Linked DNA regions of Homo sapiens. The protein of the gene in region 2 purifies or fractionates together with the protein of the main gene of each other region. This does not show direct contact. Each region holds a gene or a part of one and is shown on either strand. Other genes may lie near its edges.

The links.
Region 1: the proteins of RTN2 (region 2) and JPH1 purify together in Homo sapiens (affinity purification with mass spectrometry; 3 studies listed by BioGRID and IntAct, with this or other methods). This does not show direct contact.

What each region holds. Positions count from the first base shown.
Region 1 is NC_000008.11:74,315,380-74,331,015, forward strand, and holds the start of JPH1 (junctophilin-1), read right to left. Parts: upstream 6,162-15,636; 5' UTR 5,909-6,161; coding exon 5,530-5,908; intron 242-5,529; coding exon 1-241. UniProt on the Homo sapiens protein: Junctophilins contribute to the formation of junctional membrane complexes (JMCs) which link the plasma membrane with the endoplasmic or sarcoplasmic reticulum in excitable cells.
Region 2 is NC_000019.10:45,490,181-45,505,370, forward strand, and holds the start of RTN2 (reticulon-2), read right to left. Parts: upstream 6,868-15,190; 5' UTR 6,646-6,867; coding exon 6,612-6,645; intron 4,960-6,611; coding exon 4,915-4,959; intron 4,826-4,914; coding exon 4,346-4,825; intron 4,241-4,345; coding exon 3,986-4,240; intron 3,199-3,985; coding exon 2,980-3,198; intron 1-2,979. Other genes in the region: PPM1N (putative protein phosphatase 1N), read left to right, coding at 8,293-9,231, 9,769-9,886, 10,276-10,381, 11,837-12,020. UniProt on the Homo sapiens protein: Inhibits amyloid precursor protein processing, probably by blocking BACE1 activity. Enhances trafficking of the glutamate transporter SLC1A1/EAAC1 from the endoplasmic reticulum to the cell surface.

The DNA.
Region 1 (15,636 bases), on a different chromosome or scaffold from region 2:
TTCTTGCCCGCTAGCTCAGCGTCTGCGTGGAAGTTGAGCACGAAACCGCCGCGGGTGCCGGCCGGGCTGTCGGCGGCGGCTGCGGCGTCGTGGAGCACGCTGCCATTGCTCTGCTCGCTGCGCAGCGAGGCCAGCGAGGTACGCAGCGGTGAGCGGATCACCGTGGCCATGCCGTAGGGCACGCTCTGGCGCACGCCGTAGCCATGCCGCATGCCTCCGGCCCACTGGCCCTGGTAGGTACCTTGGAGAGACCGCAAGAAAGCACCGTGAGTCGGGGGCAGAGCTGCACCGTCACCTGCACCATCCAGCGCACACTGGCGCAGGCCTGCCCAAGGTCAAATCTGACCCATTTCCAAGTCAACCCTGGGGGATACTTTGCATCCACTTGTGAATCCCCGCCCTGTAATTTTGGGTGTAAGGCTTTAATGTCATTGCACAGAATTTTCTAGTAGTCAGATAATTTTTGCTTTTCATTAAAATTTTATGCAAGTATTTCAGAGGAAAACCACTACTTTCTAATACAAAAAGTGAACACTGGGAAACAACATTCTCCTCTGAAATTAATGCATCAAAAATTCCTCTTGGGAAGAAGACAAGGAAACAGTAGAAGATGAAATGAATTCTATGTGTAAATTTTATTCTAATATTACTAATTTAGCTGGAAAACTGTAAAAAATGACTTTTAGGTCTATGTCAGTATAACATTCCAAGAAGTATACAGGCTTAAATCGGAATACTTGGGACACAGTCATCAAATGAACGTCTTAAATTTTCTGCTACATTCAGCATCTCTTTTTTTAGTGTAGACAAAACTGTTGAATATTCAGGATTATCATTTGAATTTGGGTGAACCTTTTTGAGCTAAGAGAGAATCGACAACCACAATATATATTATGAATACAGTGAATTATGAAAAAAATGAGTAATTTAACATTTTTGTGCTTCTAAGTGAAAAGGCCAAAGCTTTGTGCCGTATCATTTGCCAAATCTCTGCATCCTCTATGGATTTCCCTAGCTGCCACTGCATTGTGAATCACACCACAGACTAGAAGCACCCTGAGGGCAGGAATTACTTCGTATGAGAACACAAAATTCTCATGTGTCCTCTGGTCTGTGTTTGTGGATGGAGGGTGTTTGATGACTATGTTGACGGTAAAAAGCTATGGTGGCTAAAAAGTATACCCTTTACTCTTGGAGAAACTGATGTAAGGCCAGATGAAATCTTCTACTGTTACCATTTTGGACTTCATCTCAGAGGAAAGGTATATTTGACACTATCTATTAAAATGTTGATACCAGATGACTCTGTCAACAAATATTATGCTTTTTCATGATAGTCTGTCATCTAGAGCATTTGTAGTGAATTTTTTGCTACTAAATAAATAAGCAAAGACATTAAAAAATAACCTGGTACAGGTTTTAAAATAATCTTAGGAGGAAATGAATGTTAAATTAGGGAATTTAGAAGTTTCTTTTCAAAATCAATTTCCTTTAATTAAGGGTAAATTTTAATTTACAGTATCCCTCAAAAGAAGCTATCTGGAAAATTTAAAATGTAATTACTTCTGTGTTATTCATAACAATTCACAATGTCATAGAAAACAAATAATGATTAGTCTGTCTTGACCTCTTTCCATTTCTGATTATATAGATCTACCCTGCAGTCACTTTGCATTTTATATTTCCATGCACAGATTTCCATTGCATGGCACATATTCATTTTCAAAACACCGGGCAAAAATGCTAGTGGTTTTATATAACTGTGTTAACAATGGCTGGTTATTTCATTGCACTTAAAAGTTAAAACCATAATGACTCCCAAGTCAACGGTTTTGACCAATTTCAAGACTACCTTCTCTTTTTGTTCATTCTGGCATATGTGACACAGGCAATAGTAGATATACAATGAAATACTAAGTGGGTCTGGTACTGTAAATGTCATATTCTGGGTAGATGTGAAGTCTTAACTTGACATCTATGAACTTCTGAGGAGGTGGGTGGCCCACAGTTTTCTCTGAAAGATTAACTCAAGAGGATAAGATAGTCATGTAAAACATTTCAGGCTAAGAAGCTTCCTATTGAATACTGGCCATCTCCAAATACCGCCATCTTAACAGGAATGGGAATGGAATTATTAGGAAATTTTGACTTTGACTTTTCCTTTGCCTATACAGGTAAAATTTAAATTCTAGGATGAAAGTTTCACAATCTGGCTTGAAGATACTAAAATAAACCACCTTATTTTTAATATTTTGTTGGTTAAAAGAATGCTATAATCACATCCTCCTAACTTTTGTCTATAGTGACAAGTTAATTTTGCTAGAACAATTTGCAGAGATGCTGTTTGATATCAATAAGTATCTGCACTTTTAAAACACAGCCATACCATCTTGGTAAATGTTTAACACTGATGGAAAATTAACAGCTAGTTTCTTTAAACTGTTATCTCCAAAAATAAGACTAGTACAGTATTTAGAATTTCCAAAAAAGTATGGCTTGAAAATCCAAGCTGTTTAAGGCAACAGCAATAATTAGAAAGTTTAAGTCTCTGCTTAACTGTCAAATAGGGAAGGGGGGGACAAGAGCATTGGCCACATTCCTCTCCTATTTTGTTAAATCACAGTATATGAAAGAATTCCTCCACAGAATTGCTAGAAACCAATTTGCAGTCAAACTGTTAGCAGTTCATCTGAAATTTAAAATAGGTTTAGTTTAGTCAATGAACCTAGAATAAGAAAGGGCCTATTTCTTTATGAAGCAGGTGGGTTCCAACTTCTCCCTGCTGCTCAAATAAAGTTCTAATTAGTTCCTCTTGATTCCTAAAATGTAGATGCATATTTCACAAGTATAAAAATTACTTTTACCAGTTTTAAACTGTGTTCATTTGGGAGCTAATTTTTTAGATTTAGTCATTTTAACTACACAATCTTGTAGTGGAAGGCATCCAGTTTAGGAGTTTCAGTCAAATTTGCACTGCACTATGCCAAACTTCAGTTTATATGCTCCGAATGGGTATGTGCAAGTATGCATCTAGTTAACAAAACGTTGTGTTTTCCCAGATATTTTCAATAGTTTTATGACAAGTGAAAAAACAAAGTACAGATCAGAATTAGCACAAAAAATTCTGGGCACCTAGACTTGGATTTCATGAGTATGATACTAACTTATTGTTAATATTCAGGGGGTTTCTATTTCAGCAACATGTAATACACAAATCACTAATAAAATAAGTGATACGTCTCACATGGAATTACTGCTTCCTTCCTCCTCCAGTTTAATGTCACCACAAAAAAACTCGGAATCAGATTTTCCCTGAATCTGATACAGGGTGTACAGGGATGGACATGTGGCGATGGGGAGAGTGCAAACAAAAACAAGCTAACTCCTTAGTGAGAACAGCAGAAAACAAGCTAATTTTTTAGTGATATTCCTATTTTGGCCAAAACCTTTGTATGAAATAAGTTACAGCAATAAACTTGCTTTAGACTCCCTTTTTATGATTGAGAACTTTCTAATGAAATAGTTACATATGAGACAGTAGAAAATCTATTAGCATAGAGTAGACATTCAGTAGTGATTTTTAAGGTTTTTCTTCCTAACTGTAGCATATTAGATTTTTTTTTTTGGTAGAAGAAGAAAACCACAGTACCACCCAGGATGATGCCAAGTTTTAAGTTTTTTTTTAAGTTTATTTTAAAACTGAAGGCAGATTATTCATAAAATCATTCTGGAGACTTATTTGGGTTTCTACGACATGTACACAGACAGCCTCTACTGTGCTATATATATTTTGATTACTAGGTATAATGAATACTCTAAACCAAGAGAGTGTGTTTAATGAATAGTATCTTTAAAAGGAGACGATTTTTAACCTTCCAAAACTGAAGAGAACCATCCCTGGCCTTCTTAAAAGATTATAAAATAATGCACACATTTAAAACAATAAATTTTGCCTTCTACTTTTGAGCATGGAATTTAGTTATATAGTAGAGCTGGGGCCTCCAACAAAATCCAGTCACAAACTGACATATTTACAGCGCTGTCAACCAGGTACTTTATGCCCATTCAGAACATTTAAGGGTCCCAATTAACTACTGTGAAACTCGGGACTCAGCCCCACATAAAACTATTAGAGAACGTTTTTTTCTTTTAATCCATGAGAACCATATGCTTAATTTATACTGTAGGATGAAAAGATGTCCTTTTTAGCAAGTTCTACCATTCTGCCATTTTGCATTTGAAACACGGCCCAAGTGTTCTGACTAAGTGAAGTGTACAAATTGTGTAAGCTTTTATATAAGCAATGGTATAAATGGGGTTGCAGTGGGCTGGAGAAACTTTTAATTGCATCCCTTTAATATCCTCCAACTCTGAGCTGCTTAATTCCAAAAAGTGATGTCGCCTCCTACAACCCTTTTCAACTAAATATGATTATGTTTATCAGGAAATGCACTTTGCTAAAGCATAAGCTATTCATGAATATCTTTCTCAGCGTATTACACAAGGAAATTCATCAGGTTTTGACACCTGTTTCAATAATGTATACTTTTCCTAATAAAAGAGGAACTTCTGTCCTGGTATATACACAATCTCTTTGGCAAATATTGTTAAATATTAAAATAAGGTGATCTTTGTTCACAGCCAGGAATACTGGCTTAGGTCACACATAATGCAAATTATTGTTTCAGTATTGCCATTCTCAGGAGTAGTAGCTGCTAACTTAGCAGCTATAGGAACACACCTGCTAATTGTATTCTTTAAAATGTAGACTTCATTACCCATTTCTAAAATATCTTCCTAGTAATTTGTCCAAGATCTCCAGGTCAGCAAAGACTGCTACTCTTTTAAGACCAATACTTTAAGAAACGGAATGAAAACTAGGAACTCACACACTCTGAACTCCACCTGCATCAGGTGGCCTTTCTGCTCCCATAACTAGGACGTTTCCAAATGCACCCCCAAATAAGGTACAATTCCCCAACATCCTAGTTACGGGGTTCTGGCTTCTATCTTTAGGCTACTGGAGGACCAGAAGCGAAATACGACTCCACGTGAAACCAATCCCGGGAGCGGTCAGCACGGACCGCCAACCTCACCCGCTCAGGGTGTTCGCTCTAACTCCACGGGAGTGGCGATTTCAAACCCGGCCGGGAGAGGGAGGGATCAGGAACGTAATGTGACGGGCTCAAGTGACAGCGTCCTCTCTCCAGCCCAACCCTCCCGGGCGGCGCTCCCTCCCGGTGGCAGCGCAGCGCTGGCGCCGGCCAGGTACATTCACGCCTAGCTCCCCTGAGTGTGGATACACGGCCCGCTCCAAGAACGGGGTCAGATCCAGCCCTCGCGCCCCAGTCCGGTCCCAGCGCCCTCTCTGGGAAAGGCGGGCGCGGGCGCGGGGGTGGGAGGCGCCCCCAGGTGTTTTGGCGGGTTTCCGGACACGTGCGCCCGGCGTCCTCCCCGCTTCCCCGCAGCCGGGGCAGAGCCCACCGCACCAGCTCGCGGAGCAGCCGAGCCGCCCGTTACGCCGCTCACCTCCGTCCCCGTAGGTCTCCACGCCGTACCCGTCTTGCAGCCCGTTACTCCAGGTACCCTCGTAGCGAGCGGGGGTGCACAGGCTCTGCCGGACCCCGTAGCGCCCCTTGAAACCATGTGACCACTCCCCCCGGTACATCCACTTGCCCTTCGTCTCCACCCCCAGCCCGTGCCGCTTGCCCTGCGCCCAGTAGCCCTGGTAGGTGTTGCCGCTGGGCCAGGTGTAGCCTCCGACCACCTCGAAGCCGTGCGACCAGGAGCCCGAGTACTCGCCCTGGCCCTTGGGCCCCGTGCAGATGCCATGCCCGTGCGCCTTGCCCTCCTCCCAGCCGCCGCAGTAGGTGCCGCCATCGTCGAAGTCGAACCTTCCGCCCGTCATTCGGGGGGCAGCCCCGGCGCGCTCCCCGCAGGGGCACGGACGCGGGCAGTGCTGGGCACGGCAGGGTGTAGCTCGGGGGTGGGGGCCCGGCGGGCGAGCTCACGACAGCGCCCTGGGCAGCTCGCGCTGCCGCTCGGCTCCAGTCCGACGCCGCCCCCGTCCTCCCTCCTCTTTTGCCGCCGCCACCGCCGCCTTCCTCCTCCTCCTCCTCCTCCTTCGCCGCCGCCGCCTGGGCCAGCGCCGCGCGCGAGAGGACAGCCCAGGTTCCCGAGCGGACCTTCAGCTGCTCCCGCCCGCCCACGTGAGCCGGGCACCGCCCCGCGCCCGCCCCTCGTCCCCTCCCCGGGCGCCGAGGCCCGGCCCCGCGGCGCTCCCGCCCCACCGGGCCCTGCCCCCAGCCCCGGGAGCCGCCGCTTCCTCGGCAGGCGGGCGCGCGCGGGGACCGGCTGGCGCGCATGTGTTCGCGCAGTGGGATGCCGGTGGGAGGGCGAGTGTACCCGGGGACGCACGAGAATCCCTGCCTGGAGATGAAGGCGCGGCTGCCTGTGTGGGGGCCGCTCGCGGGCGCCGGAGCCCCCGGTGTTTGTGTTTGGGGTTTTTCAAAGTGGTTAAGCTCCTGTGAGTGCGGCCACGTGTGTGTTGAGGGAAAACTCATTGTATGCGTGTTTGTCTGCATGGGGTTTGTAGTTGCATTGTTTTCGCATTCCAACTTGTGTACTGTTGCATTTGTCATGCTCAGCTGTCATCGTGAATTAATATCGCCTAGATATATGTATGCATGTGATGTAAATCTGCGGCAGCCTAGATATAATTGTGCAGAGTGTTCTTTTACACCTACCCGTTTCAAAGCACACGTGTTTGCATTTATTTAATGAAGACACTGAGGGTGAGCAGTACAGTTTGAAAAAGCACAGAATATATTGGTTAGTTTTTTATTAATAGTGATGAAGAGGATGTTTTCAATCGGCCTTTGCAGTGGTACAGGATATTCCTTTTACATTAGAGCCTGCCCCCTCTCGTGCCTCGTTTGTGCTTCTTAACAGCCTTAGAGATTCTTGAGCCTGGAGCTGTGTGCCCAACAGGTAGACGGCTCGGTCTGTGTACATTGTATAAGTGTCTGGAATGCACACCTCTCCACTGGTATCCACTGTTTAAGAAAGTAAATAGAGGTTTGCAAGGAGGAATATGGTAAGTAAAGCACTGCTCTAAACTTGCAAAGAAACTGTGACCTACAAAACCAGGGACAGATGTCAGCTGGTCTACTTTCTAGCTACAACACTGCTTTGTCGAATTCACTTTAGGCAACTCTTCTAAACTTTTAAACCTCCATTTCACCATCTTCTGAATGGGACTAACAAGATTTGCCTTTCTCTTTCTATATTCGGTAATAACTGAGTATATTGTGGCTGCAGTGCCAAACCAAAAATTAGAGATTTGGTAATAGGCAAGTTGGATCAGCATTGCCTCTGGTGAGAGAAAGCATTATTCTCCACCTCACCCTCAAAATACCCACGGGAGAAACTTCTCCCACTTTCACAGCCTAGGGTCTTAGTTTGGCCTCTCAAGGAAACTGATTTGGAGTGTATTCCTGCTATTTCTTAGGCTGAGAGGCCTTTGGGTGACTATGCGAGCATCAGAAGCTGCCAAAGGTTCTCTCACTAAGTATTTGATAATCAGATATAGATATAAGGACAGGTGTCAGGAAGACAGCCTGGGAAAAAGTAGACTAAACTGCACAGAAAAGGAACTGAAATTGACCTTGATTGCCTCTCTCTCAGGACGAGAGCCGACCTTTCCTACTTATCTGGCTGAAAGACTGAAAGAAAAATCTCAGTTTATGCAGAACCAAATCACCAAAGAGAATTAGAAGCCCTCATCCATGGCACTGCCCGCAGAGTTGCCAGGAATAGTGCTTACCCTAGTGGCCTGAAATAATTATGCATCTCTCGAAGCATCTTGTCCTGGACTGGGGATTGATTTAGGCCGCTGGGAAGATGAGGGCCAGGGCTTTGCGGCTGAGCCATAATTCCATTTCCCTGTTATGGGATACACCAGAATCAGGAGCTAATGTAGAAAGATGCATTCCCATATATTTTGAGGTTCTGTATGATATGAGAAAAAGTGTGGTTGCTCAAGCCAATATTTTGAATGGGGGAGTCTCTTTCTAAACTAGACTTCCTCATAGAGTAGTCTTTGTCCCTTTGCCTTTTTTTTTTTTTTGGATCCACCCAGTGTGTTAGGACCCATATATGTTCTTTAAGGGGATAAATTTTGGAAACCTTTATCTCTTTATTTATTACTCTTCCTAATTAGTTGTCATGCAAATGAGGGATTTTCTGGAACACAGAGCACAAACCAAGTTTCTGGCTTCTGTAATGGATATCTAGTCTATTTGTGGTGGGAGGTGCACACACATCTGGATTGAATATGAAGATTTGGGGAGGAAAAAAGACATGGCCATTTATTGCTTACTCTTTTCCTGTGGCTATCCCTAATAGATGCCTTGCAAAGAACCTTAATTAAAAGTGAGACTTTACCACTAGGTATGTATGATTAAATTTTAACTAATCTTAATCCTAGCCTAGCTCTGATGTTGACTTTCTTTATGAAAGAAAGTTGGTATTTTTGGTAAATTACTAAACAATTTTTGGCAAATAACCATATAAACCATGCTTCCATTTACCAGCTGCCATCACAATGGAATGTTTACCCAGTCACGAAGACATATGTGTTAGTGTAAGTGTTCAGGGTCAATGGTAACGGTTGGAGAAGACGGGGAGAGAATACTAGGAAGAGGAAGAGATGCTGAGAGTGATGGCATAGCAGATAGTAGACAGTGGAATAATGTTGCAGTTTAATAGTCAGGGTTAGTAATGTCCTTATTTTCCCTCTCCCTCTGAACCTTTGCCCTGGATAAGGGGGAGTTGAATTTAGCTTTAAGAAGGGATTAGTAAGAAGAGAATGTGAATGTTGGTTTGACAGGTGGAACGGGGGAGGCCATGAAAATCCAGGGGCCAGCAACTACCCTATAGTTTGTTTTCCTCCATGTTAAAAACCTAGTTATTATATATTTCCATTCTAAAAAATTTTATAACATATTGTAAGCTATTTTGAGTGTGACTATGACCAGTTAACAACATATTAGTAAGGATGTTTTGCTGGAATTTAATGATGTCTTTCAAAAAATGAAGGTGTATTTAAAAATTTATTGGTGACTTCATTTTATTTACATAGTAGATTAATTATTGGCTGGACAAGGTGGCTCATGCCTGTAATCCCAGCACTTTGGGAGGCTGAGGCGGGAGGATCATTTAAGCCCAAGAGTTTGAGACTAGCCTGGGCAAAATAGGAAGACCCCATCTCTAAAAGAAAAAACAAAAAAACAAAAAAACCCCGACTGATTATTGAGAGTTTTTAATAAAAAATTTACAAATGACAAAAAGCTAATCTGTAGGTGTTTATTGTCTAAAAACCATGATTCAAAGTGTGTAGAAAAACACATACAATTAAAATCACTTGATATATAAGTCAAAAAGTGTTACCATCTTGATTTATACAATCAAATAATCAAAATTTGAATATTTGCAATAAAGAATTTACAAACTCAAGAAATTTGTCCGTGATAAATATAAAAATTAAGAAATATGGTCAGAAACTTTGCAGGCAGTGTGAAATCAGAAGAGGAAGAGAATTCCAAAATTAATGGTCTTCAAGTCTTTTATGGCAACTACTGTATGACAGATACCATACTAAGCTTTTTTTACAGGTATGAATTCATTTAAATCTCATAGTTGTAGATGATTTGTACTAGTCGTACAACCATTTCACAGAAGGAGAAAATAAGGTTTAGCACATTCATAGGTACAGAATTATTCAAGGTAGAAATGGTTGAGGTGGGATTCAAACCCAGGTCTGTGTGACTTTAGAGGAGGTTCTTTATTCCTGTCCTTGATTGGAGAGAGGATGAGAACACATTGAGAGCTTTCAAATGCTCGGCGGAGAACAACAAGGTGCAGTAAAGATGACTTTTATTTCTTATTTTTTTAGATTAGCTGCCTGGGTGAATGATAATGTTGCTGTCTAGATTTTTTTTTTTTTAAAGGAGGAAGGAGAGTAAATTATGGGGGCTGCAGAAGATATATTTATTTAGGAGACAATGATCCAGAAGTATACCCCAGAGATGATCAGTAGGCAATTCAGTAGGAGAGGTCAAAAATTAAAAATAAGTAGGTTGATAAGTAAATAATGCCCATTTTTCTTCTTCCTCTGACAGCCGTTGTTCAGTAACATCCCCTTCTGAGACTTCCACTATTCACTCGGGCCTCGGACATAGCCTGGACTTGACTTTGATCCAGCAAGTAAGGTCCAGTAAGGCCAACTCTCTGGAATTTGAGAGTATAGGTCCAGCTGAAAATTGCAAACTGGGATTTTACAATTCCACTCTGACGGCGTTCCCTCATTGCCACTCTCACTGAACACTCCGTTGGTTCTCCTCAAAGTCCTCCATGCTACATAGCACAACTTTTCCCAGGCAGATTCCTGATATTTATCACCATCCTGGAGCCCATCTCCACTGCAGCTTTCTCCTGCTGAGCAGAGGACACTGTCTTCTGTCTCACAGAGGAAGAAGGAGCTAGGAACACTTGCACCTTTCCTCTCTTCAAAAACTTTACACAGGTTCCCATTTTCTTCCTCTTCCCATTCACCTGCCTCCAAGAGGAAAAGATAGCCTTTTTCCTCCCCAAGTTCTGGGTCAGTTCCTTCTCTCTCTCTCTGTCTTTCTCTTTCTCTCTTTTTTGAGATGGAGTCTCGCTCTGTTGCCCAGGCTGGAGTGGAGTGGTGCAGTCTTGGCTCACCGCAACCTCTGCCTCATGGGATCAAGCAATTCTCCTGCCTCAGTCTCCTGAGTAGCTGGAATGATAGGTGTGTGCCACCACAACTGGCTAATTTTTGTATTTTTAGTAGAGACGGGGTTTCACCATGTTGGCCAGGCTGGTCTCGAACTCCTGACCTCAAGCAATCCACGCGTCTTGGCCTCCAAACCTTCTCTCTTTTAAATATGTTTTAATTTCTTCTCTTTCAGCCAACAAACAAGCTCTTGTGTTTTCCATATTAAAACAGTCCTAATTTGCTGGTCTACCATCTCCTTAAGTCCTCTATGTCTTTTCTTGAAACTGCAGATCTTGAAAGAGTGTATTCTGGTCTTTATGTCCCTGCCTCCAATTTACGTACTACTTGATTTGGATTCTGTTCTCACCGGTCTAGTGAAGCTTTTCTAGCCATTAGGGACCTTCTGTTTGACAGATATGATGGCATATCTTCAGTTCCTATCCTGCTAGTGGCAGCAGTGAATTTTATACTTGGGGACACTCATCTCCTTGGCTTCTATGATGCCCATATTTGTGCTTCTCTTCTCCCTCTTCATCTCCCACCACTTCAGCTGTGTCATTCTCTGTGTATTTTTCATCTTCTTATCCCTTTCTAGTCTCCTTAACTTTATGCTATCTGTTGTTTTCCAACTATTAGCCTTATGGTACCAGAATTTTGTATAATTGCTGGATATTTGTTGGCTTATCTTGTATAACTAGGCAATCCTGCCCTAGAAGCCAAGAGTCTGATTTAGAAATAGTCTAATTCTGATCTAAAAACACCAGCTGAGCCTATTTAACTTTCAAGGGCAATGCTTTGGTTTCTTCTCATGATGCGTCCCTTGTGGCCCTCTGCCTCCTCTTCCTAATGGGGAAAGCTCCACATAGACCTGGACACCATCCATGTCTAATGATGAGGCTCACAGAGGGTTTCAGGAAAGTTCTAACAATAAAAAAGGTAACCTCAGATGAAAGGGAGACTTGAAAGAGTGGTAACTTGAAGACAGAGTGGATTGCAGGTCTGTATTAGAGGTGTAGTGCCTGAACCAAACCACAAAATGTGTACGTATATGTATGTATATGTGTGCATATGTTTATTCATCTTATATATGTGTACATGGTTACTGTCTTAGGTATGGAGACATAGAGAAGTAAGGCTCAGCCTTTGCACTTAAGGATATAAAATATCTCTAAAGAGACAGGAGATGAAAAAGAAAAATAATAAAAATACAAGGGAGATAACTACAAGTAGCCAATAAGTGCCAAGTATCGTAAGAGTTCAGAGGACAGAGTGATTTAATGGATTGCTATGGTTGAAACAATTTTCAGTAATCATTGGCATGTTGTTTAACTTTATGGATATAGTAAAGGCATACCCTTCTAGATATTTATAATGCAATGATCTTCTTGAATTAAGAGGCACCCTACCAAGGGAAGGAATGAAGGGAATGAAGGTTTACCACTCTTTCAAGTCTCTCTTTCAATCTGTGATTGTAAGAACAGAAGAGACTTCCTGAAAAAGAAATCCCAGGCATCCGAGGAGACATGGCGATGAGTTCATCTCTCATCCTACATTTAAAATCACAACGCTTTGTTCTGAAACTATGACTGAAAGGCAACTCAGTATTTGAAATTGCACGACTTGGAGATAGCAAGGGAATCTAAAAGCATTTTGAAGAGTGTCAGTATTGAGATGTTGTTAAAAGTTGTAAAAATTGATGAGATAACCTTTTCATAAAGCAGTTGCATAAAGAAGGGAGGTACACAATATTGTTGAAAGCAAAGGAGTAAGTAGCTACTAAATGACTCATAGCTGAAGGAAAGAAAAACGCAATCAATTATTAGACAGTAAAAGAAATGTAAATTATAATTGAGGAGTGAATGGTTCCAAGAGCTCAGGAATGGGATTTGAAACAATAGCCAATAATAGAAGAGGCTTTCCTCTAACTGAATGACAAGGGGGGATGTGGTATCTTTGCCAAGAGTTGCAGTACCAATCTGCATATCAGCTCAGCATGCACACCTCAAAGCCCTTGTAGGCCATTCTTCAGATACTGATTGCATTCCAAATAAAGCTTAAATTCCTCTTCCTTTCCTTCATCCCACTCTAGCATTTTTGTCATCTCTTGCATTTTACATCATTTTCATGTGGCAAGCACTTTTTAAAGCTTACAGAGACATCAGAACACCCAAAGAGTGGCTGTGGAGGCTCACTGCTCAGATCTGCCTTCAAGAGAACCTACAGTTTGGAGGGTACTTGGCAAAGAGACTCCAGCTGCCACAACTTCACATCTCCTGTGGGTTTTGCATCAAGGCCACTGCCCCTGACAACCCCTCCAAGTTAAGGGTAAATTGATGCATCTTGCATCCTCTGCTACAAAAAGGAAGCAGAACACCTGGTAGGCCTACTCTTTGGTTCTGGAAGCAACACATACACACTTAGACACTACTTCAGCTTATGTGCTAGGTGACACAGAAGGGAGGCCACCAGCTTTGAGAGGGCTCAGACCAGGAAGGGGTTTTTCTAGAGGCTCAGGTTGTGATGCAAGCAGCCCTGCCTCTTGGGCCATATGATCAGGCAGATCCTATGGTGTTGGAGGTATCAGTGGTGAGAAAAGATATATGAAGATTATGGCAAGCCCCTGTGGAAGAATCACAGTTGCAAGTCTATGGGGATCTAAAGCAAGGATCTATATCATCTGCAACAGGCAATCTTACATCTTTTGAGAAACAGTTTACTTGAAAGTTACTTGGCCTTGGTAGTAAAGGAGTGCTTGACCATGGGAAAAAGTGCCTGTTCATTCAGAATTTCCCATTATGAGCTTGAGTCCTCTTGACTCAAGTCTTGACAGACCCAGAAGCAATCTATTGTGAGTTGGGACTGGGATCCCCAGGAGCAAGCTGAGGGGGACCAGAGGGCATGAAAAGCTGCAAGAACAGGTTGCCTTTTCTTGAGGGCTGTGTGGGACAGACCCTCATGTCCCCCACCTGGGTTCCACTGGTTCACTTCTCTGAGCAGATTGGGGTTTCAGATAACTAGCTGAAGGGGGAGGAAAAACCTTTATCTGGTTTACGGTTGGATGAGCTCAGTATGTGGATGTAGCTGAAAATGAATGGAGGCTGCATTACATCTACACTCAGGAGTGGTCTTGAACATCTGTAGACCGGGAAAATCTTTCCAGTGGGCAGAACTGTGAATGTTGAACCAGTCATGTATTTTGTGTGGAAGGGAAAGTGGCCCCAGGTGGGAATATTTATATAGATTTCTGAGCAGTGGCTAACAGCGTTGCCTGGTCAGAGGCTGGACAGAGAAGGATTGGAAGACTGAAAACATGGAGGTCTAGGCTAGAGACATGTGGATGAACATATGGGAATGGACACAAAGTGGAAGAGGCACTGAAAACCCAAGTAGATGACAGGACTCAGCCAGTTAATGTCAGCCTTCCTCAACAGACATCCCAGATCTGGAGCAAGGGGCACATGAGCTTAGTTGCCTCAGTGGCAGAGATGGAGGTTGTACCTGGGCCCAAGAGCAGGGACTGCTGCTTATTGAGGTTGGTTTAACTACTCCTAACTTTGTAAGTCAGATCTGTTAGTAACAGAGAGTATTCCTTGCAAATATCAATCACCTACTTGGTGGTAAGTTGAGTATATTAGACTCATTTCAGCCTAGAAGAGCCAGTGGTTCATCCTTACTAAGGATAGACGTTCTGGGTATGGATTTACCTTTCCTCCCCACAGAGCCTCAGCCTGTACCAGCACTGTCCAGTGGCTTATAGAATACCTGATTCACAAGCGTGGGATTTCACACATAAACTCCAACCAGGGGACCCACTTCACCGTGAAGGAGGTGCCAGAACGAGCCCTGATTGTGGGGTCCGCTTCGTCTTAGACACTGTATTACTGCTTACCTCTGTAATATTTCAGGGGCTAACCTCATAGAATAATGGAATGGTCTCCTAAAGGTACAGCTATAATTCTAGTTTGCTGGTAATAATCTGCAAAGATGGAGTGGCATTTTTTGGGGTGTGATATATGCACAGAATCGGATTTCTCTATGACACTATCTCTAATAGGGAGGACATAGAAGCCTAGGAACTAAGAGGTAGAAGCAATAGTACCTCACTTATTATCACATCCAGTGTCTTTCCTATCGGTGCATCTCTGGACTTTGCAGGGTTCCCAGAGGGGAAGCACTCTTGCCAGGGGACAAAGCAGAGCTGCAAACTATGGCTCCTGCCTGGCAGATCCAGGGATTGTGCCCAGGGATCAGCAGGTAAGAAGAGGAATCACCATATTGGCAGGAATGATTGACTTTGATGAGCAGAAGGAGGCTTTTATATAACGGGGACAGAAAAGAATATGTGCAGACCCAGGTGATCCACTTAGGTGCTTCCTGGGACTCTATGGATCCCTTGTATCCATGGATGCAGTCATGTGGCAACCCTGGTCTGAGAAAGGTATGACTTACAAGGGGTTCAGACCTTCCAGAAATGAAGGATTAGGTTATACCACTAGGTAAGCCACTAGAACCTACTTATGTGATAGCTGATGGTGAGGAGAATGAAGTAAAGAAAAGGGAGAAGATGAGAACCATTTTTAGCCACAAGGCTAACTTCAGAAACAGGGACTGCTATTTGTCCCATTAACTTCCCTTATCAGAGCTTCCCTTCAGGAAGAAAGGCCCCCAGGAACTGCCCCCAGATACATGTGAAGACAATCTCTGCAGTGCAAGGGGAGATTGTGGTGGTCATAGATGTGCACCACTCAGATCTTCCTTCAGGAGAACTTGCTGTGAGAGAAGAGGTTGGTGAACATCCTGTAGCTGCTGCACCTTTGAATTCCAATAGCATTCATGCT
Region 2 (15,190 bases):
TAGTAGAGACGGGGTTTCACCATGTTGGTCAGGCTGGTCTCGAACTCCTGACCTCGTGGTCCACCCGCCTTGGCCTCCCAAAGTGCTGGGATTACAGGCATGTGCTACCGCGCCTGGCCTTAATTCATTATTTTAAAGAGCTGCATAGTATTCTGTGTTGTGGCTGTGCTCCTGTGCTCTCATTCATTTTATTTAACCATGTACCTATTGCTGGGTCATTCAGTTTGTTTCCTAACCCCTTCACCGCAAGCAGGGCTGCAAGCAACATCCTCCAACAGATATTCTCACCTCCTGGAGTGACTATTTCTGAGACAGATTCCCAGGGTGGAATTGCTGGGTGGACTGGTTGTGTGTCTGTGTGTGTGTGTGTGTGTGTGTGTGTGTGTGTGTTTTGTTTTTGTTTTTATTTTTTTTGAGACGGATTCTCGCTCTATTGCCTAGGCTGGAGTGCAATGGCACAATCTTGGCTCACTGCAACCTCCGCTTCCTGGGTTCAAGCAATTCTCCTGCCTCAGCCTCCTGAGTAGCTGAGATTACAGGAGGGCTCCACCACACCCGGCTAATTTTTTATATTTTGGTAGAGATGGGGTTTCACCATGTTGGCCAGGCTGGTCTCGAACTCCTGACCTCAAGTAATCCTCCCACCTCGGCCTCCCAAAGTGTTGGGATTACAAGCGTGAGACACCACGCCTGACCTTGGTTTGTTTGTTTGTTTTTTTTTTTGAGACAGAGTTTCGCTCTTGTTGCCCAGGCTGGAGTGCAATTGTGCAATCTCGGCTCACTGCAACCTCCACCTCCCGGGTTCAAGCGATTCTCCTGCCTCAGCCTCCCGAGTAGCTGGGATTACAGGCATGTGCCATCATGCCTGGCTAATTTTTTGTTATTTTTAGTTAGAGATGGGGTTTCACCGTGTTAGCCAGGATGGTCTTGATCTCCTGACCTCAGGTGATCCACCCACCTTGGCCTCCAAAAGTGCTGGGATTACAGGCGTGAGCCACCACGCCCGGCCACATTTTTTTTTTTTTTATTTTTAGAGGCAGAGTCTCACTCTGTCACCCTGGCTGGAGTGCAGTGGCGTGATCATGGCTCACTACAGCCTCTACCTCCCAGAGTCAAGCAAACCTCCTACCTCGGCCTCCTAGCAGCTGGGACTACAGGTGGCACCACGATATCGTGCTAATTTTTTTTTTTTTTTTTTTGGACAAAGTCTTCCTCTGTCACCCAGGCTGGAGTACAGTGGCATGATCTCAGCTCACTGCAGCCTCTGCCTCCCGAGTTCAAGAGATTCTTGTGCCTCAGCCTCCCAACTAGCTGGGATCACAGGCATGAGCTGCCATGCCTGGCCTGGCTAATTTTTTTTTTTTTTTTTGAGGCAGAATCTCGCTCTGTTGCCCAAGCTGGAGTGCAGTGGCGCGATCTCAGCTCACTGCAAGCTCTGCCTCCCGGGTTCACGCCATTCTCCTGCCTCAGCCTCCCGAGTAGCTGGGACTACAGGCGCCCGTCACCATGCCCGGCTAATTTTTTGTATTTTAGTAGAGACGGGGTTTCACCATGTTAGCCAGGATGGTCTCGATCTCCTGACCTTGTGATCTGCCCACCTCGACCTCCTAAACCTGGCTAATTTTTAAATGTTTTGTAGAGATAGGGTCTCGCTATGTTGCCCAGGTTGAATTCCTGGCTTCAAGTGATCCTCCCACCTCGGCCTCCCAAAGTGTTGGGATTACAGGCATGAGCCACCGCGCTCGGTCATATATATTTTTTTAATGTCATAAATTTTGAAACACTGCTTACTAGTAAGACCATAACAGTTCTTATTTCCACAAGAAGCAAGAGAAAGATCTTTTCCCAGCATCCTGCCCTGCAGTGGGTTGCAGTTCTTTTTAACTTTTGCCAATCTGTCAGGTGTAAAGTGATATCCCCTTGATACCCTTAGCAACACATGTTTCTAAGTCCTAAATGTATTAATCACGCCATACTCCTTTCCAGGGCCTAACTCAAATTTCTGACCCCTTTCTGAGACCCTAAAACACACCTCCTAAACCCAACCTCAGCCCTGACCAGTGACCTTTGTACCCCAACCTTCATCTCATCTGTCTAAACTTTAGGCTCACTCCTGTAATCACAACACTTTGGGAGGCCGAGGCGGGAGGATCACCTGAGGCCTGGACAACATAGTGAGACCCTGTCTCTACAAACAAAATAAGAAAATTAGCAGGGCGTGGTGGCCTGTGGCTCTAGTCCCAACTACTTGGGAGGCTGAGGTGGGAGGATCACTTGTGCCCAGGTGTTGGAGGCTGCAGTGAGCTATGATCCCACCACTGCACTCCAGAAAGGGCGACAGAGGGAGACTCTGTGGCTTAAAAAGAAAAAGAAACTTTAGTAATCTGCTTTCCTTTGAGTCCTGAAAACCAGGAACTCAGTACCTTTCTATTTCTTTCCAGATCCTCTCTATCCTCCCACACTCCCTCCAACTGACCCCTCCGACCGGTCCCTCTTAGAGGCTCACCCCTCACTTCCGTCTCCTTCCAATGCATCTCCTCTCATTTACCTCCAAATAGGGCAGCCCCTCCCTCCCCATAGCAGGGCCCTCCCAGGCAGGCTCCTAGTGGCCGGCGCCGGTGGATGGGGGAGGGGCCAGGTCGCCTGAGGCGGGGGCTAAGTTTAGGCACGCTGGGGGGAGGGGGCCTCCCCGCAGCTGTTCTGGCCCGTCTGGCCCCTGAGTGACAGCGCTGCCTGGGGCCGAGGCTGGGGGAGGGGGTCCTCCCTGCTCCTGGGCCCCAAAGTGCTGGCTCGAAGGAGAAGGGACCCCATGCTCCCTCTGGGTCCTCCCTATACTGCCCCTCGGCCCCCTAGCCCCAGCCTGCAGCGCTGCGGAAGCAGATCAGTAATAAAAATGCTCCGGATGTGCAGGAGATAAGGGCGAGTTTGGACCCCGTTCCGCCGACCTCAGCCCCCGTCCAGCCCGTTCCGCAAGCCCACCTTTACTCCCCATATCGGCTCCGAGTGAGAGGCTGGGGACACCGCTGCTTCTCGGGGATTTTGCCCACTTCAGTAGAACCCGGAGGACAGGAGTAGGGGGGGTGGGGCCCCTTTGGACCCAGCCAATGGCTGTCCACAGAGGTGGGGACAATTCCAAAATTGGAACCGTCTTGTAAACAGCCAAAAGCAATGATGTCTTTAACCATTCCATAGCTGTTCCTGGAGGCGGAGCATATTTTAAAGTAAGGCTGGGTCATTTTACAACTGGCCAATAGATGTGGTCAGGAAAAAGAGGGTTTTTGTTTGTTTTTTCAAATAGAGATCGAGTCTCCCTATGTTGCCCAGGCTGGTCTTGCACTCTTGGCTTCAAAGGATCCTCCCGCCTCGGCCTCCCAAAGTGTTTAGGATTACAGGCATGAGCCACTGCGCCCGGCCAAAAAGAAGAGTTTTTAAAAGGCACAGAGTTTACTTATAAATATTCTACGGCCACATCTAAATAAGGAGAGAACTGTATTTTTTCAGGGATTTGGCCTGTCCAAAATCAGCCACTAGGAGGAGCACTCCAGAAGAGGGAGGATTATTTTATTTTATTTTTATTTTTTGAGACGGAGTCTCGCTCTGTCGCCCAGGCTGGAGTGCAGTGGCGCGATCTTGGCTCACTGCAACCTCTGCCTTCCAGGTTCAAGCGATTCTCCTGCCTCAGCCTCCCGAGTACAGACGGGGTTTCACCATGTTGGCCAGGCTGATCTCGAACTCCTCACCTCAAGTGATCCGCCCGCCTCGGCCTCCCAAAGGGCTGGGATTACAGGCATGAGCCACCGCGCCCGGCCGGGGAAATTTTTTTAAAAAGCGGAGTTTATCACGTCTAGCCAGATGTGATATCACGTCTATCTCTTCCCTTTTCCACTATGTACTGTTCCTTTGCGAGGTTGGTCCCTTTAATTCAAAATCCTCTCACCTTTTGCCTTCTGTGGGCCAATGCAGCATCTTCATACACGTTGCTTACCTAGAAGGCGTGGCTCCACCGTGAATTCTAATTGGTCCGTGCTATCGAGGCACTGTCCCCTTACTGGCTCTCGCTCCAGTGGCCCCCACTGCTTTTCTTCCTCTTCCAGCAATGGCTCTTCGGGCCCAGAGTTCGAATCTCGCGATCGGGATGGGGACGGAGTACCGGCCTGGGGTGTCCCAGAGCCCGGACTGAGCTGGGGAGTCAAGACCTCGGGCGATGAGGGCTGAGCAAGTCGGAGTCGTAGGTCCAGTTCTGATACGGTAGAGAGAGGAGGCCGTGAGCTTTCTTCTTGGAGGTGCCCCAAGGAGAAACCACCCACCCCTCTTGGCTTTGGTCCCAGCACCTCGGACATCTCACCTTCCCCAGCTTCTCCTGTCTCCAATCTGTTGGGTTCTTGGGGTTCTTCGTCTTCCAGCGGGGTGGAGCTGCTGGTGGAAGAGTCCTCCCCGGATCCCGTTCCCCGGGCCACCCAGCCCAGATGGTCCAACCGAAGCCTCAGGTCTTCCAGAGGGCGCTCGGATGGAGGCGCGGTGTCAGGATCACCCCGTCGTCCAGGCTCCGGGGATTGGCTCAGGCTGGGGATGCTCTCCAAGCTGTCGCCCAGGCTGGGCTGAGGGTGCTGGTCTCGTGGTTCCGAGACTGAGCGGCCCTGGGGGCGGGGGCGGCGGGCAGTTGAATCCCTGCGGCCCCCGGAGCCCACTACACCATCAAAGGCGATGTAGGAGAAGGTCAGCTCCCGGGGGGTGCCCCAGTCCTGCGACGTGGTCTCCTCCTCGTCCTCCTCTGAGAATTCCCGGGCTGTGTGCAGCTCTCGAAAATCAGAGTCGTCGTTCCCTCCTGCAGTGGGTGAAGGAGAGCCTTGTTTCCCTCAGCAGGTCCCTGAGCTGCCCAGCCCTGAGCCCCTTCACATGCTCCCCACCACTTACCTTCTGTGGAATCAGGAGTTGAGGAGGCTGTAGACGGAGCTTCTTCTGCGAGAGGGAAAGAATCGAAGACTCTTAGAAGCTTAGACTGTCCGAATCACAGAAGTGTCCCAGTCCTGGAATCTTAGAATATTTGAATCACGGGATTTTTAGAACATTCTGCACACAGACTCTAAAACCTAGCATCACTGCCTGATGAAGCTCAGAGTCTTTGAAGTCCAAATCCAGGAATCTTAATCTTAGAGTCTTCAAAGTAGGAATCTTAGGAGGTTTCAATTCATTCATTCGTTCAACAACCACTTATTGAGCACCTACTATGTGCCAGGCACTGTTCTAGGTCCTGGGGATACAGCTGTGAAGAAAACAGACAAAATCCCTGCCCTCCTAGAGCTGACACTCTTTGGGATAGACAAACAATAAACAAGTGAATATATGACGTCGGGTGCAGATGAGCATAGGGAGCAAAGTAAAGAAGGGTAGGGGAAGAGAAAGTGAAGGGGTGCTGTTTCTCATAGGGTGGTCAAGAAGGCTTCTCTGATAAGATGACGTTTGAGCAGAGATCTGAAGGAAGTGAGGAAGCCATGCAGATGTTCAGGGACGTCTTCCAGGTAGAGAAGAAAGCCAGTGCAAAGGCCCTGAGCCAGGCACCATGCTTGGCATCTGAGGAACTGAGAGGTGCGAAGATATGACTGGAGAAGAGTGACTGAGGAGGAGAGGAGTGGGAGGTGAGAACAGAGAGGTAAGGGCGGTGGGGAGAGACAGACGAGGTGGTCCTCCCTTTGTAATCTGAAGTTAACGACAAGATCATAGAATGTTGGGATGATACTCGAAAATGCTGAAATCACCAATTCTTAGAATTTTGGCATCTGGACACGCGAGACATGGAAATGGCTAGATCTAAGGGTGTTGAAATCCCCAGCTGTCAGAACCCCCATGTGTGGGACAGAGAACGGTAGACATGGACTGTTATAGCTGTGAGCTCAGAGATTGTGAGGCTAGGCGTTTTCAGCTGGGAATCCAGCCCCTTAGAGCTAGTTCAGAGCTTTGCACATAGATGATGCTCAATGCGGTTTGGAAATTGAAATCTGACGCCCTGTGCCCTCACCTCGTTTCCTCAGCTGGGGAATAGGAGGCCTGGAATGGTGTGGGTCTTCCCCAGGATTACCATTAACCAGTGGTAAAGACCGCTAAGAACCCATGAGTCCTTGCCCCCAAACCACGGATGGCTGTTTTCCCGGGACAGGGTTGGACAGTTTGGGCGAGGTCGGGGCTGCCTCTTGGACAGAAAACGGGGATGGGATGCGAAGGCAAGTGATTGGGAGCCAGACCCCTGTTTTCCATCCTGGCTCTACCCTCCGTTCAACCCCCTCCCCGCCAGCTGCGGCCAGCACCAGAGCCAGGGGACAGCTCCCCGCGCGCGTCCTCGCTCCCGGGCGGGGCCGGGCGGTACGTCCCAGAGCGCAGCGCGCCCCCCGCCTGCTGTCTCAGTGCCCCCTCACCTCCGCCCTGTTTCGTCCAGGTCCTCCGGGTCAGGCTACCCCCGTCGCCGCCAGAGCGCGGGGGAGGGGAGAGCTTCCTTTGTCTCCTATGCCTCCTCCCCCCATCCCGGCTCTCCTGCGGGCAAGCGCCGAGGGGACACCGGGGAGTACCCCACCTGAACCTCTGGGGCCCACACCAGGCCCCAGTCTTCCTCTACTCACTGCAGTGGGCGAAGACCGGCAGGACCTGCCCCATGGCCCCCCTCGGGCCTGCATCGGGACCCCCGCCCACTCCGGCTGTGCCGCCCTGGGCCCGGGGTCGCGGGCGCTCATCTCCGCCGCGCCCACGACGCCGCTGCCATTCTCGCCGCCTCCTCCTCCCGGGCTGCTCCAGCCGCCGCCGCCGCCGCCGCCGCCGCCGCCGCCCTGGTGCTCGGCTCGGCGGGGGCGGGCGGGGCCGAGGTGGGGAAGGCACTGCAGCGCGCGGCCGGGGGCGGGGCCAGAAGACGGGCGGGGCGGTACCAGAGGGAGGGTGAGGGGCGGGGAAACGCCGAGGATCAGGCGGAGGGGCGTGGCCTTCTTACTAAAGGGGCGGAACCAAGAGGGTGGGCTACGGAGCCAGGAAGGAGGGGAAAGCGGCCTGAAGGGCGGGGCCTAGATCGCAGAGGGCGCAGCCTTTAGGGGAAGAGGGAAGGAGGCCTGGAGTCTGGCGAGGGACTTGGGAGAGGATGGTGAACGAGCCACGGCAGAGAGGATGAGAGCGTGGATCCCTGGGTGGGTTGGGGTGGTGCTCGGGGTGCCATTGAGGAGGGGGTGGAAAGATTCTAATGCTCTGAGGTAGGGTCCGAGCCTAGATTTGCAGAGGGAGCGAGAAAGGGGGCCGAATGAAACGATTCAGAAACTTTTGGGGCACGCGGAGGAGCTCAAACGTGGGCAGGGCTAAAGCAACAGGGAATTATTCAAATATAACTGGGTGGGGTCGGATTCCAGGCGATTCCAGGTCTGCGAAAATTAGAAGGGTCTGGAGCTGTGTGCCTGAATCCTGGATGGGCGGGGCCTGGAAGAGAAAATAAGCGAAGCCCCAGAGGGGAGGGGTCGAACTAAAAACAGTAAAGAAAAAAAAAATATGTATATATATATATATATATATATATATATATATATATATATATCTTTTTGAGACAGGGTCTCGCTCTGTTGCCCAGGCTGGAGTGCAGTGATACGATCACGGCTCACTGCAGCCTCGACCTCCCGGGCTCAGGTGATCCTCCCACCTAAGCCTCCTGAGTAGCTGGGATCACAGGTGTGTTCCACCGCGCCTGGCTAAATGTTAATTTTTGTAGAGACGGGGTCTCGCTATGTTTCCCAGGCTGGTCTCAAACTCCTGGGCTTAAGCGATCCGCCTGCCTCGGCCTCCCTAAGTGCTGGGGTTATAGGCGTGAGCCACCGCGCCCGGCCAAGTATGGTATTTACAGGTTTTGAGGCTGGGGGCTGTACCACTGAGGTGGGAGGAGCTTGGACTGAGTGTTGTGTTGAGAACACAGATTCTAGAATTAGTTTCCCTGGAACACCGGTTACTTCTGTGACTCTGTTTCTTCTTCCATATGTAAACTGGAGATGATGATGTATAACAGTGTGTGACACATTAGTACTATGTAATAGTTTGCCACTGGTACAGTATTATCTTTTTTCTTTTTTTTTCCTGATTCAGATCCCAAACCCCGCTTTGTAGGTGCAGGAAACAGGAGACCCAGAAGTGTAATTCCTTCTAGTGACCCGCCTAAAGAGCAGGTCAAAGGACAGGAAGGAGATTTAGATGGTTTAAAATCTCACAGCGGAGGGGATTAATGGAGGGGGCGGGCAGGTGTACAGGGTGGAGCCTTCCTGATCCCAGGGCTGAAGGATGGCGGTCCTGGCCCGCCAGCTGCAGCGTCTCCTCTGGACCGCTTGCAAGAAAAAGGAGAGGGAGAAGGAGGGGAGGGAGGAAGAGGAGGAGGAGGAGGCGGGGCGCAGGGCCCCCGAAGGGCCTCGGTCTCTGTTGACAGCGCCGCGCCGCGCCCAGCGGCCGCACGGGGGTGCCGAGGCGTCTGGGGGCCTGCGCTTCGGGGCGAGCGCAGCGCAAGGCTGGCGCGCGCGCATGGAGGATGCTCACTGCACTTGGCTTTCGTTACCTGGTCTGCCCCCGGGCTGGGCCTTGTTTGCCGTCCTCGACGGCCACGGTGGGGCTCGAGCTGCCCGCTTCGGTGCACGCCATTTGCCAGGCCATGTGCTCCAGGAGCTGGGCCCGGAGCCTAGCGAGCCCGAGGGCGTGCGCGAGGCGCTGCGCCGAGCCTTCTTGAGCGCCGACGAGCGCCTGCGCTCCCTCTGGCCCCGCGTGGAAACGGGCGGCTGCACGGCCGTGGTGTTGCTGGTCTCCCCGCGGTTTCTGTACCTGGCGCACTGCGGTGACTCCCGCGCGGTGCTGAGCCGCGCTGGCGCCGTGGCCTTCAGCACAGAGGACCACCGGCCCCTTCGACCCCGGGAACGCGAGCGCATCCACGCCGCTGGCGGCACCATCCGCCGCCGCCGCGTCGAGGGCTCTCTGGCCGTGTCGCGAGCGTTGGGCGACTTTACCTACAAGGAGGCTCCGGGGAGGCCCCCCGAGCTACAGCTCGTTTCTGCGGAGCCAGAGGTGGCCGCACTGGCACGCCAGGCTGAGGACGAGTTCATGCTCCTGGCCTCTGATGGCGTCTGGGACACTGTGTCTGGTGCTGCCCTGGCGGGACTGGTGGCTTCACGCCTCCGCTTGGGCCTGGCCCCAGAGCTTCTCTGCGCGCAGCTGTTGGACACGTGTCTGTGCAAGGTCCTGGGGGCGTGGCGTGGTACCTTTGGGGCTTGGTGCAGCAGAGGGAGAGAGCCTCGGGGTTTTGGGGAGGAGGGCTTTGATAGAGAGGCAAGAGTAAAGCTAGCAAAGGAGGGGATAGGACTCAAGCGAAGGGCGTGGCCTGAAGTGGGCAGGGCCAAAATACAGGGGCGGAGCCTGAGGGATGCTTTGAGGCACGGGAGAGTTAGTGGAAGGGACTTAAGAGAAAGGGCGTGGTCTTTTGGAAAGGGGCGATTCTGGGTCGTAGGAGCCGGGCCGGAAGTATTGATTAGTGCTGGAAGGTGGAAGAGCAGGTAAACATCAGAGCGGGCGGAGCTTTAGGGAAAAGGCATTGTTCTCTCAATTGGGAGCGCCTAGGACCGGGTTTGGTCCCAGTAAGAGAGGATTGGCAGGTGGGTGGGACGCGAAAGAAATGGGCATAAGTAGAATGAAGTGGGGGACTTGAACCTGGGGATTGTTGGGAAGCTCTGCCTTGGACTCTCCCCCACCGGGCTCCTTTTTCTCCACCGGCTTCAGGGCAGCCTGGACAACATGACCTGCATCCTGGTCTGCTTCCCTGGGGCCCCTAGGCCTTCTGAGGAGGCGATCAGGAGGGAGCTAGCACTGGACGCAGCCCTGGGCTGCAGAATCGCTGGTGAGCAGACTCTGGGGGCCCAGCTGGAGGGGTGGTTGGCCAGTGAAGGCTGTGCCATAACTTTTTCTTTTTTTCTTTTTTTTTTTGAGATGGAGTCTTGCTCTGTCTCCTAGGCTGGAGTGCAGTGGCGTGATCTTGGCTCACTGCAACCTCTGCCTTCCGGGTTCAAGCGATTCTCCTGCCTCAGCCTCCTGAGTAGCTGGGATTACAGGCATGCACAATCACACCCAGCTAATTTTTGTATTGTTAGTATAGACGGGGTTTCACGATGTTGTCCAGGCTGGTCTCGAACCCCTGGCCTCAAGTGATCCGCCCGCCTTGGTCTCCCAAAGTGCTGGGATTACAGGCGTGCGCCACTGTGCCCAGCCTAACTCTTGACTCTTTCTCAGAACTGTGTGCCTCTGCTCAGAAGCCCCCCAGCCTGAACACAGTTTTCAGGACTCTGGCCTCAGAGGACATCCCAGATTTACCTCCTGGGGGAGGGCTGGACTGCAAGTGAGTTGGGGTGAGGAAGGGTGGGGTGGAATGAGGGTGGGGTGGAAGGAGGAGAGTCCCCTCCTGAGGGCCTTCCTGTGCTCTCCAGGGCCACTGTCATTGCTGAAGTTTATTCTCAGATCTGCCAGGTCTCAGAAGAGTGCGGAGAGGTAAGGATCCTGTGTTCTCCAGTGTTTCTCTTAGGAGGGGACGCCCCCCCGCCCACCCCTCTTAGTGACAGGGAAATTGAAGCCAGTGAGGATAAGGGATTTGCCTGATATATTTTATTCCTCTTTTCTCTTCTTTCTTTCTCTTTTTTTCTTTTCTTCCTTCCTTTCTTTTCTCTCTCTCTTTTTTTTTAGACTGGGTCTCACTATGTTGCCCAGGCTGGTCTCAAACTCCTGGGCTCAAGGGATCCTCCTGCTTTGGCCTCCCAAAGTGCTGGGATTACAGGCGGGAGCCACTGCAACCCAGCCAGCTTGCTATATTAATACATTCCTACTCCCAGCCCTGAAGCATTGTGCAAGGCATGAGGAGGGAGACGCAGATGCAGAGAAGAGACTGTGATTCCCCTCCAAGAAATGTGAGCCGGCAACGCTCTGCAGTGCCCCATCAGCCCAAGTGCTTCCCACATCCAAGAATAAGATGGAAACATTCAGGGAATGCTAATGACCAATTCTAAGGCCTAGACGCACAGCAGATACCATCAGGACATACATGAGTATGATCCAGGTCTTAGACAAGAGAAGCTGTAATGGGGCCCAGATAGCTAAGGAGAATTTGGAGATATCCAAAGATGTATAGTGGTGGACCAAGGCATGGAGTGGCATCAGGGAAGAAATGGGAGGGAGGAAGCTGGGTTTAGAGCCCCAAGGCCTTTGCATGGCAGAGGTGGGAGTTTGGTGATTATCATGTTGATGAGGGAGGATTGTTGACAATTTCTCAGTAGCTGAAGGAGGTATTTGTCAGTTTTCTTTGAGTCGTGAGAGATGGAAGCCCAATTCAAGCTGGGAAAACAAAACAGGGAATTTACTGGGCCATGTAATTGAAGAGTTTAGAGTCTTAAGGCATGGCTGCATCTAGTTGTCAGATGATGTCATCATGAATGGTCTCTTTTTATTTTCTCCGAGTTGGCTTCATTACCTTTCAGGGTCTCCTCCTAAGGTAGCGGAGACTTGCAGCTCCAGGCTTACACCCCAGCAGCCTGTCCTCCCCAGTGGAGAAAGTTTGCCAATTTCCCCGGAGTTGCAGCAGTGGTCTTTGGGGGCTGGTTCTCATTGGCCACACCAGGTCACATGCTGACCAGTCACTGTGTCTGATTGGCCAGGCTGGGGTCGCACTTGGGGTTGGGGTCCACTCCATTCAAACCTTAATGGATTGTGAGATGGGATATGGTGGTCCCTCAAAGGAAAAGGAAGAGGTGCCAGGAGACAAGACAGAATTTCTCATTACCTTCTCCCACATTTTGTGTTACAGAAGGGGCAGGATGGGGCTGGGAAGTCCAACCCCACGCATTTGGGCTCAGCCTTGGACATGGAGGCCTGACAGCTGTTGTCCTTTGGGGATCCTTTGCTTCTCTGGGGCCTCAACAGAACTAAAGAAGAAAACCGACCCTTTCCCCAACTACATGTACCAGCGGAAGGAAGGAAGGCCAATGTAGGAACCCAAAATGCTTATTTCTTCTTCTCTTACTTCCCTCTCACAGAAAAGTCTTACGAATGGGGAAATTCCACCAACATCCAGACCAAAAAGAAAAAAGCCCAAATCGAAAAAAAAAAAAAAAAAAAAAAAAAACAAAAAAACCCAACCAAATGTTTTTGAAATATTCAGAGCCGAACAGATTCTGAGAGATAACCCAGTCCAATAACCTCTTTCCTTCTTATTACTCATCTGTTTTTGAGGGGAAGTAGAGTTTTGATTATTAAACTTTATTTACATAAGTGATTCCAAATACATTTTCTTGTAAAAAACAAGAAGACATGTTTTGCCTAGTCTGTTAGCAAATACGTTACAGGGCACCTGCTGTGTGCCAGGTCTTAGCCTCACAGTCATGAACCAGGCTGACCCACCAAGATCCTTGCCACTGTGGGGCTGACCTCTTGGTCAGGAGACGCAGCAAACAAGGGAATCAATAAATAAAGTCATCTCGCCAGGCGCAGTGGTCCACATCTGTAATCTCAGCACTTGGGGGAGTCTGAGGTGGGAGGATCACTTGAGCCCAAGAGTTCGAGACCAGCCTGGGCAACATAGCAAGATGCAATCTGTAATTTTTTTTTTTTTTTTTTTTTTTGAGACGGAGTCTCGCTCTGTCACCCAGGCTGGAGTGCAAGGGTGCTCTCTCGGCTCACTGCAAGCTCCGCCTCCCGGGTTCATGCCATTCTCCCGCCCAGTCTGTAATTAATACTAAAAAAATGAAGTCATCTTGCACACTGACAAGTGTCACGAAGAAAATAAAACAGGAGGATGTGTTGAGAAAATGACTAGGGGAGCTACTTCGGGTTTTTTACTTTTTCCAATTTTTAAAATTTTGATTTATTTAATTCAGGTAGTTTTGAATGGGTAATAAATTCACTTGGTTTGAAATGCAAAGAGTGCAAGATGGCATACAATGAAGTCTTTCTCTATCCCTCTCACACTTCAGCCACTCAATTTTCCGTGGTGGGGGAGGTGGCTTTTGAAACAGGGGAATCAGGAAAGGTCTCTGAGGAGGGGACAGTTGAGCAGAGACCTGACAGAGAAGAGTCAGCTCCGCAAATACCCCAAAGAGTGTTCTAAGGCAGAGGGAACAATCAGTATGAAGGCTTAGAAGCAGGATAAAATTTCCCCCCTTTTTTTTTTTTTTTTTGAGACAGAGTTTTCACTCTTGTTGCCCAGGCTGGAGTGCAATGGTGCAATCTCGGCTCACTGCAACCTCCGCCTCCTGGGTTCAAGTGATTCTCCTGCCTCAGCCTCCCAAGTAGCTGGGATTACAGGCACGTGCCACCACACCAGGCTAACTTTTTGTATTTACTACAGACAGGGTTTCACCATGTTAGTCAGGCTGGTCTCGAACTCCTGACCTTAGGTGATCCACCCAACTCGGCCTCCCAAAATGTTGGGATTACAGGCATGAGCCAGCCACCAGGTCCGGCCAAATTTGGCATTTTCAAGACAGACTTGAGACCTCCCAAGTGCGGTGGCTCACACTTGTAATCCCAGCACTTTGGGAGGCCGAGGCAGCTTGATTCCAGGAATTCGAGACCAGCATGGGCAACATAGCAAAACCTTGTCTCTACAAAAAAAAAAAAAGATCTCTGTGACCACCAAATTAACCCCACACTCTCTATCTCACTGGTAACCCTTGCAATGAGTTTAAAGTGGACTTTTTACATGTATTAATATATGGTATTCTGGGTGTTTCCTTGATTTTTTTCATTCCCTTCGTATCTCTGGCAACTTTTTATCCACTTAATGGATGTTTTCATTCTATGTCACCCACGTCATTTACACACTTCATGCCACCCGTTTTTTTAAGAGACAAGGTCTAAGTCTGTATCCCAAGCTGGAGTATAATGGCGCAATCATCGCTCACCACAGCCTCGAACTCCTGGGCTCAAGCAATCCTCCTACCTCATCTTCCCAAGTAGCTGGGACCACAGATGGATGATACCACACCCAGTTAATTTTTTTTTTTTTTTTAGAGATGGGGTCTCGGCCAGGCGCAGTGGCTCACACGTGTAATCCCACCACTTTGGGAGGCCCAGGTGGGCAGATCTTCTGAGGTCAGGAGTTCGAGACCAGCCTGACCAACATGGAGAAACCCCATCTCTACTAAAAAATGCAAAAATTAGCTGGGCTTGGTGGTGCATGCCTGTAATCCCAGCTACTTGGGAGGCTGAGGCAGGAGAATCGCTTGAACCCAGGAGGTGGAGGTTGCAGTGAGCCGAGATTGCGCCATTGAACTCTAGCCTGGGAAACAAGAATGAAACTCTGTCTCAAAAAAAAAAAAAAAAAAAAGAGAGAAATGGGGCCTCACTATGTTGTCCAGGCTGGTCTCAAACTCCCTGACCTCAAGTGATCCTCCTGCCTTGGCTTCTCAAAGCACCAAAGCACTGGGATTACAGGCATGACACACCTTGCCCAGTCCACACCTCCTTAAGTTGCTGCTCACTCCGTGCTTCAGAAAAGGATGTCCAAGGGTTTCACTATTCCCTGCCCTCATCTTTTTTTTGTTTTGTTTTGTTTAATTTTTTTTGAGGAGTCTTGCTCTGTCTCCCAGGCTGGAGTGTAGTGTCACGATCTTGGCTCACTGCAACCTCCGCCTCCGGGGTTCAAGTGATCCTCCCACCTCAGCCCCTCAGCCACCCAAGTAGCTGGGATTACAGGTGTGTGCCACCATGCCTGGTTAATTTTTTGTTTTTGGTAGAAACGGGGTTTCACCATGTTGGCCAGGCTGGTCTTGAACTCCTGACCTCAAGTGATCCACCCGCCTCGGCCTCCCAAAGTGCTGGGATTACAGGCGTGAGCCACTGTGCCCAGCCTCCCCTGTCCTCTTGATGAACATTTAAGCTATTTCCAATTTCTTGCTCTCACATCACTGCTACCGTAAAGATCGTTATGTACATATGCAAGCGTTCTCTTACACAGGGGTCTTGCTACCTGTTTTGTACAGCACTTAAGCTAAGAAGAGTTTTTTTTACAGTTTTTAAGCCTTGTAAGAAAAAAGAAAAACTGAAGAGTGTGTAAACCAGACCCTATGTCTAGCATATCTAAAATATTTCCTATTTGAACTTTTACAGAAAATGTTTGCCGGCTGGGCCTGGTGACTCACACCTCCAATCCCAGCACTTT